Linked DNA regions of Homo sapiens: region 2 is linked to region 1. The links come from fine-mapping of genetic effects on gene expression. A gene starts in region 1. The other region holds a variant in brackets. All regions are shown on one strand. Distances are from middle to middle. Region 1 holds the start of PAFAH1B1 (platelet activating factor acetylhydrolase 1b regulatory subunit 1). Region 2 overlaps PAFAH1B1 (platelet activating factor acetylhydrolase 1b regulatory subunit 1).

Region 1 (2,806 bases):
GAAACCCCGTCTCTACTAAAAATACCAAAAAAATTAGCCGGGCGTGGTGGTGGGCGCCTGTGGTCCCAGCTACTCGGGAGGCTGAGGCAGGAGAATGGCGTGAACCCGGGAGGCGGAGCCTGCAGTGAGTGGAGATTGCACCACTGCACTCCAGCCTGGGCGACAGAGCGAGACTCCATCTCAAAAACAAAAACAAAAACAAAAAACAAAAATTAGCTGGGCGTGGTGGCAAGTGCCTGTACTCCCAGCTACTCGGGAGGCTGATGCAGAGAATCGCTTGAACTCGGGAGGCGGAGGTTGCAGTGAGCCGAGATCGCGCCACTGCACTCCAGCCTGGGCGACACAGCGAGACTCCGTCTCAAAAAAAAAAAAAAAAAAAAAAGGAAAAGAAAAGAAAAATCATAGGTATCTGTGTGGAATAAATTAACTACAAATCCCCAAGACGACTCTTGTCATCAATATTTCAATCCATAATTTAGCAAACACACACAGACATCCCTTATAGGGATACAGTTCCAGGCCTTTCTTTGGGCATCCGTTTCGAGACCTGGAGAGACTCTGATGTCTGTGTGTGACTAAGGAGAAGAATAGCTGAATCATATCCAAAAGCGAGTCCTCCCAATTAAGAATCTATAATACAAATCAAGACAATGACAGCATTCCATCTGCCTTTTAACCTCAACAGCTCCTCCTCCCAAGCCAGCCAGCCTACTCCCCTCCCTCATTCCCCCCCAAACTGGGAAATCATCTCGGAGGCCGGAGGCAGAAAGGGGCGGTAGGTGGCCGGGCCCCGCTGCCTCTCGCGCCTCCCGGGGCCCGCCACACACGGTGCCAACGGGACGCCGCGGTCGGCCGCATGAGCGCAAAAGCAGGGCAGCGAGGTGAGCAGAGCCAGAGTTCAGAAGGGGCCGCAAGTCAGACGAGGGGCTGGGAAAAAAGAGCCTCTCCCAAGGTTAACAGAAGCGTGCGGAGCGTGAGAAGCAGCACCTCGCACGCAGACTCGCCCGCCGGCCGGGTGGCACCGCTCAGCCGCCCGCCCGCTAGAAGGCAGCGCGGCCCCGGCCCGGCCCAGCCCGGCGCATGCGCCGCAGCCCCTCCTCCGCTCCCGGCGCCCGCCCCTCCCTCTTCCTGGCGGGTCTGGGGCGGCGGCGGCGGCGGCGGCGGCGGCGCGGTGACGTCAGGGCGTTGGGGCAGCTCCTGTGACAGACGGAGCTGGAGCGGCGGGGCGGCGGCGGAGTCCGGCGGCCGGGAGAGCGAGTGAGCGAGCGGAGGAGCAGCGACACGGGAGTCTAGGGAGCGAGAAGGAGAAGGAGGGGAGCGCTCGGGCGCGAGCGAGAGAAACCGCGAGCGCCGAGCTTGGACTCGAGCCCCGGAACGGCTGAGGAGCCCGCCCGCTCCCCTCCCCTCCCCCTCCCCGGGCCCGGGCCCAGCGCGCCATCCTCCCCCCTCCTTCCCTCCCTCCCTCCTTCCTCCCTCCCCTCTCCCTCCCCCTCCCCCGCCGGTGGATGGGAGTGAAGGACGGAAGAGGCCCTGCGGAGGCGGCGGTGCAGCGCTCCGGTAAGGCGGCGCGGGTCTGCGCCCTCCCCTCTGTCTCCTCCACCGCGCCCGGGCGGCTGCAGGCCGGACCCGGCGGCCTGACGATGTGGCTGCGCCGGTCCCCTCCCTCCCATTCTCCCCTCCCCCTGCCTCCGCCGCCGCCTCCTCCTTCTTCTTCTCTCCTCGCTCTCAAAATGGCGGCCGCGACGGCCGTTGAGTGAGAGACCCGGAGGAGGGGGACTGTCCGGGGAGGGCGCTGCCCTCGCTCCTCTCCTCCCGGGCCCGGCTTTGGGGGCTGCCGGCGCCTCTGCGACCCCCGCCCCGCGGCCCTCCCCAAGAAGGGATCGCCCTCCTCCCTCGGTGACTTAGCAAGAAAAGTATTCTTGGGTTGGAAGGGCGTGGGGACCAGGTAGCTCTCTGATCTTGGGGAAAAGGATCGGCCCTGCTCTCCCCGGCCGCGGAGACGAGCACCGCAGTCCCCACCCCACCCTCAGTTATCGGCTCGGGGACCGGCTCAGCCCCGCGCCGCCGGGGCACTCATAGGGCCTTCCAGGCATTCCGTCCCCGACTGGTCCTTAAGATGGGGTTGACCAGCGGAGGGTGGCCCACCGTCTCCCTGGCCCCCGGTGCGGCGGTCCAGCCTCAGCACCCGCCGAGGAGAGGCAGCCCGGCCCACCGAGCAATCCGCAGCATCCACCCACCGAATCTGGCAGGATTTTCTTTCTGCCACCGGCTCCTCGGTCGGGAGTTGCCTTTTGATGCTGTTAACATTCAGCTTCGAGGCTCCCTGCCATTCCCCTTCGTCTAATCTCATCTCCCTGCCCCTTTGGGAAACGCAGTGCCTCTGCATATTTACCCTCTTTAGCCTCCCACATGAGAAAATGCCTTTGAGGTGGTCGACACATTTTGACTCTGCACCTCTAAACGTAGCAGTAGAGGGGAAGAGGTTTTCCGTATTTAGTAGGAGAGAGCAAGGTACCATAGCTTTATATGTTATGCTACCTTTCTTCAGTGACTTAGCAAGAAACTCCTTGGGAAGAGGGCAGGAAATTTTCTTTTGGGGTTTGGGCCCAATTTATATCAGTCTTTTGGTTAAGAAAATACGCCTTTGAAGAGGAGGACCAGATTTGTGGTCTCGTTCTCAATGGGCGATGTCATGCCAAGGTCCCCCCTCCCTCTTTCCTTAAGTGGCAGTCCGGACAAATAGAGATATTACTGATATTCCCATCTCTCCTTTAAGCACACAGTCTTGGAGTTTCATAAGGTTTTA
Region 2 (2,806 bases), 32 kb after region 1:
GGCTGGGGAGGCCTCAGAATCATGATAGGAAGTGAAAGGCACTTCTTACATGTCAGGGGCAAGAGAAAAATGAGGAAGAAGCAAAAATGGAAACCCCTGATAAACCTGTCAGATCTTGTGAGACTTACTATCGCAACAATAGCACAGGAAAGACTGGCCCCGTGATTCAGTTACCTCCCGCTGGGTCCCTTCCGTAACACATGGGAATTCTGGGAGATACAAGTCAAGTTGAGATTTCTGTGGGGACGCAGCCAAACCATATCACCTGGTTTCTCTGTGTTGCCCAGGCTAGTCTTGAACTCCTGGGCTCAAGCGATCTGCATGCCTCGGTCCATCAAAATATTGGAATTACAGGCTTGAGCCACTGTGCCCGGCCTCTGCTGACCTTTTAAATAAAGCTTTGGCAAGTGACAGTTTGAGGTTAGGAACCATTGATAATTGATGAATTACCGGATAAGTCTTTATTTCTTCCTTCTACATCTGATAATAAATCCGATGATTTCCATTTTCATGTCATTGCGCCTCTACTGTTAACATATAATTATTTATACTTTCTATTTTTTTTTTTTTAACTCTTCCACTTTCTCTTTTTGTGGTGGGGTACTTACCCTAGCAATAAACACATTGTTGTCTTAGATGCTGCATTGGATAGCAGATACGTGGATATAGTATTAGACTAGAGAATGCTTAAGAATTCTGCATTCCAAAAGCATACTAAAGCCTCTGTTTCTAGTGCTTAAGCAACAGTGTCCTTGATATCAGTCTAAGAAAGTCTGGATATTGACATGCAAATGAAAAAATCAGACTCTTTGAATTTTGTTTGTCATATATGCAAGTAGCTTAAAAGAATATTGGAATACTGCCAAAATACATTTCAAAAATATTAAATCTTCTTATTCGTTATTTTGACTTTGGAAAGATTTGTGAACCCCCTTAAAATACATGCAATATTTTGTTTATTTTCATATGTGCTTCTTTGAGAGGAAAGATCTTAGCTTTCATTATATTCTCAAAGGAGTCCAGTAACCTCAAAAAAGGTTAAGAACTTCTATACCAGGTAGTATGAAAAT[A/G]TTGCCTGATTTATTTGTACTGTTGGTTAATGTAGATTGTTCGTTGCAAAATATTCTAAACTCTTTCTTTAAAAAATGTTTACTCCATTTAAGAACCATTTATTAGAGGCTGGGCATGGAGGCTCTTTCCTGTAATCTCAGCACTTTGGGTGGCCGAGGTGACAGAATCGCTTGAGCCCAGGAATTAAAGACCAGCCTAGGCAACATAGCGGGACCCCGTCTCTAGCGGAGGTTGGGGGTAAAAAGAAAAAATTAGCTAGGCATGGTGGCATGCATCTGTTGTCCCAGCTACTCAGGAGGCTAAGGTAGGAGGATCTCTTGAGCCTAGGAGTTAGAGGCTGCAGTGAGCTATGATCGATCATGCCATTGCTCTCTAGCCTGAGTGACAGAGTGAGGACCCTGTCTCAAGAAAAACAGAAAAACGTTAATAAAAGCCAGGCGTGGTGGCTCATGCCTGTAATTCCAGCACTTTGGGAGGCCAAGGCAGGTGGATCACTTGAGGTCAGGAGTTGGGAACCAGCCTGACCAACATGGTGAAACCCTGTCTCTACTAAAAATACAAAAAAATTTAGCTAGGCATAGTGGTATGCACCTGTAATACCAGCTACTCGGGAGGCTGAGGCAAAACAATCGCTTGAACCCAGGAGGCAGAGGTTGCAGTAAGCCGAGATCACGCCACTGCACTCCAGCCTGGGCGACAGTGAGACTCCGTCTCAAAAAAAAAAAAAATTATTTCTGTTTTCATGTGGTATTTTGCGATTATGTGTTAACCATTAAAAGGCAACTGGAAAGGTAAAATTGTATTCTTAAAATAAGTATGATAACTCAATCATATACTTGTGCTTTCTGATAGCAAAAATACATGTTAAAGGTTGGAAAGGTTAAAGTTAGAAAATTCACAGGCTGAAATAATCTGAGTTAAAGGGTGCCTTAGATGTTAGCTACTATGTAGAAAATTTAGATTAATTACTCAGGTTATAGAGTTGATGACAAACTTGAACCGGCATCACCTTTCTTCCCCCCCCCCCCCCCCCCGAGGCGGAGTCTTGTTCTGTCGCCCAGAGCTGGAGTGCAGTGGCGCGATCTTGGCTCACTGCAACCTCTGACTCCCTGGTTCAAGCAATTCAACTGCCTCAGCCTCCCAAGTAGCTGGGATTACATGCGCGTGCCACCAAGCCCGGCTAATTTTTGTATTTTTAGTAGAGATAGGGTTTCACCATATTGGCCAGGCTGGTCTTGAAGTCCAGATCTTGTGATCTGCCCGCATCGACCTCCCAGAGTGCTGGGATTACAGTCGTGAGCCACCCCGCCTGGGTGCAATTTTTTATATGTTTGTTGGCCATTTGTATATCTTCTTTTGAGAATTGTCTCTTCATGTCCTTAGCCAACTTTTTGATGGGATTGTTTGTTTTTTCTTACTGACTTGTTTGAGTTCATTGTAGATTCTGGATATCAGTCCTTTGTCAGATGTATAGATTGTGAAGATTTTCTCCCACCCTGTGGGTTGTCTGTTTACTCTGCTGATTGTTCCTTTTGCCATCCAAAAGCTCTTCAGTTTAATTAGGTCCCAGCTATTTATCTTTGTTTTTATTGCATTTGCTTTTGGGTTCTTGGTCATGAGATCCTTGCCTAAGCCAATGTCTAGAAGGGTTTTTCCAGTGTTACCTTCTAGAATTTTTAGTTTCAGGTCTTAGGTTTAAGTCCTTAATTCATCCTGAGTTGATTTTTGTATAAGG

The links. PIP is the estimated chance that this variant, and not a neighbour inherited with it, causes the effect. A credible set is the group of variants that fine-mapping cannot tell apart.
Region 2: its variant is the best candidate, but not a certain one, in a credible set for the expression of PAFAH1B1 in whole blood (TOPMed, PIP 0.74).

What each region holds. Positions count from the first base shown.
Region 1 is chr17:2,592,450-2,595,255 of GRCh38, forward strand. PAFAH1B1 (platelet activating factor acetylhydrolase 1b regulatory subunit 1) reads left to right here and starts at 1,205. Exons shown (of 11, transcript NM_000430.4): 1 at 1,205-1,557. RefSeq lists an enhancer at 411-1,139 and silencers at 974-1,193, 1,244-1,473, 1,884-1,943, 2,004-2,053.
Region 2 is chr17:2,624,467-2,627,272 of GRCh38, forward strand. The region is part of intron 1 of PAFAH1B1 (platelet activating factor acetylhydrolase 1b regulatory subunit 1); the gene reads left to right. Among named protein-coding and RNA genes, the nearest start is that of PAFAH1B1, 32 kb to the left of the region's middle. The variant A/G (reference allele first, on the strand shown) is at 1,071.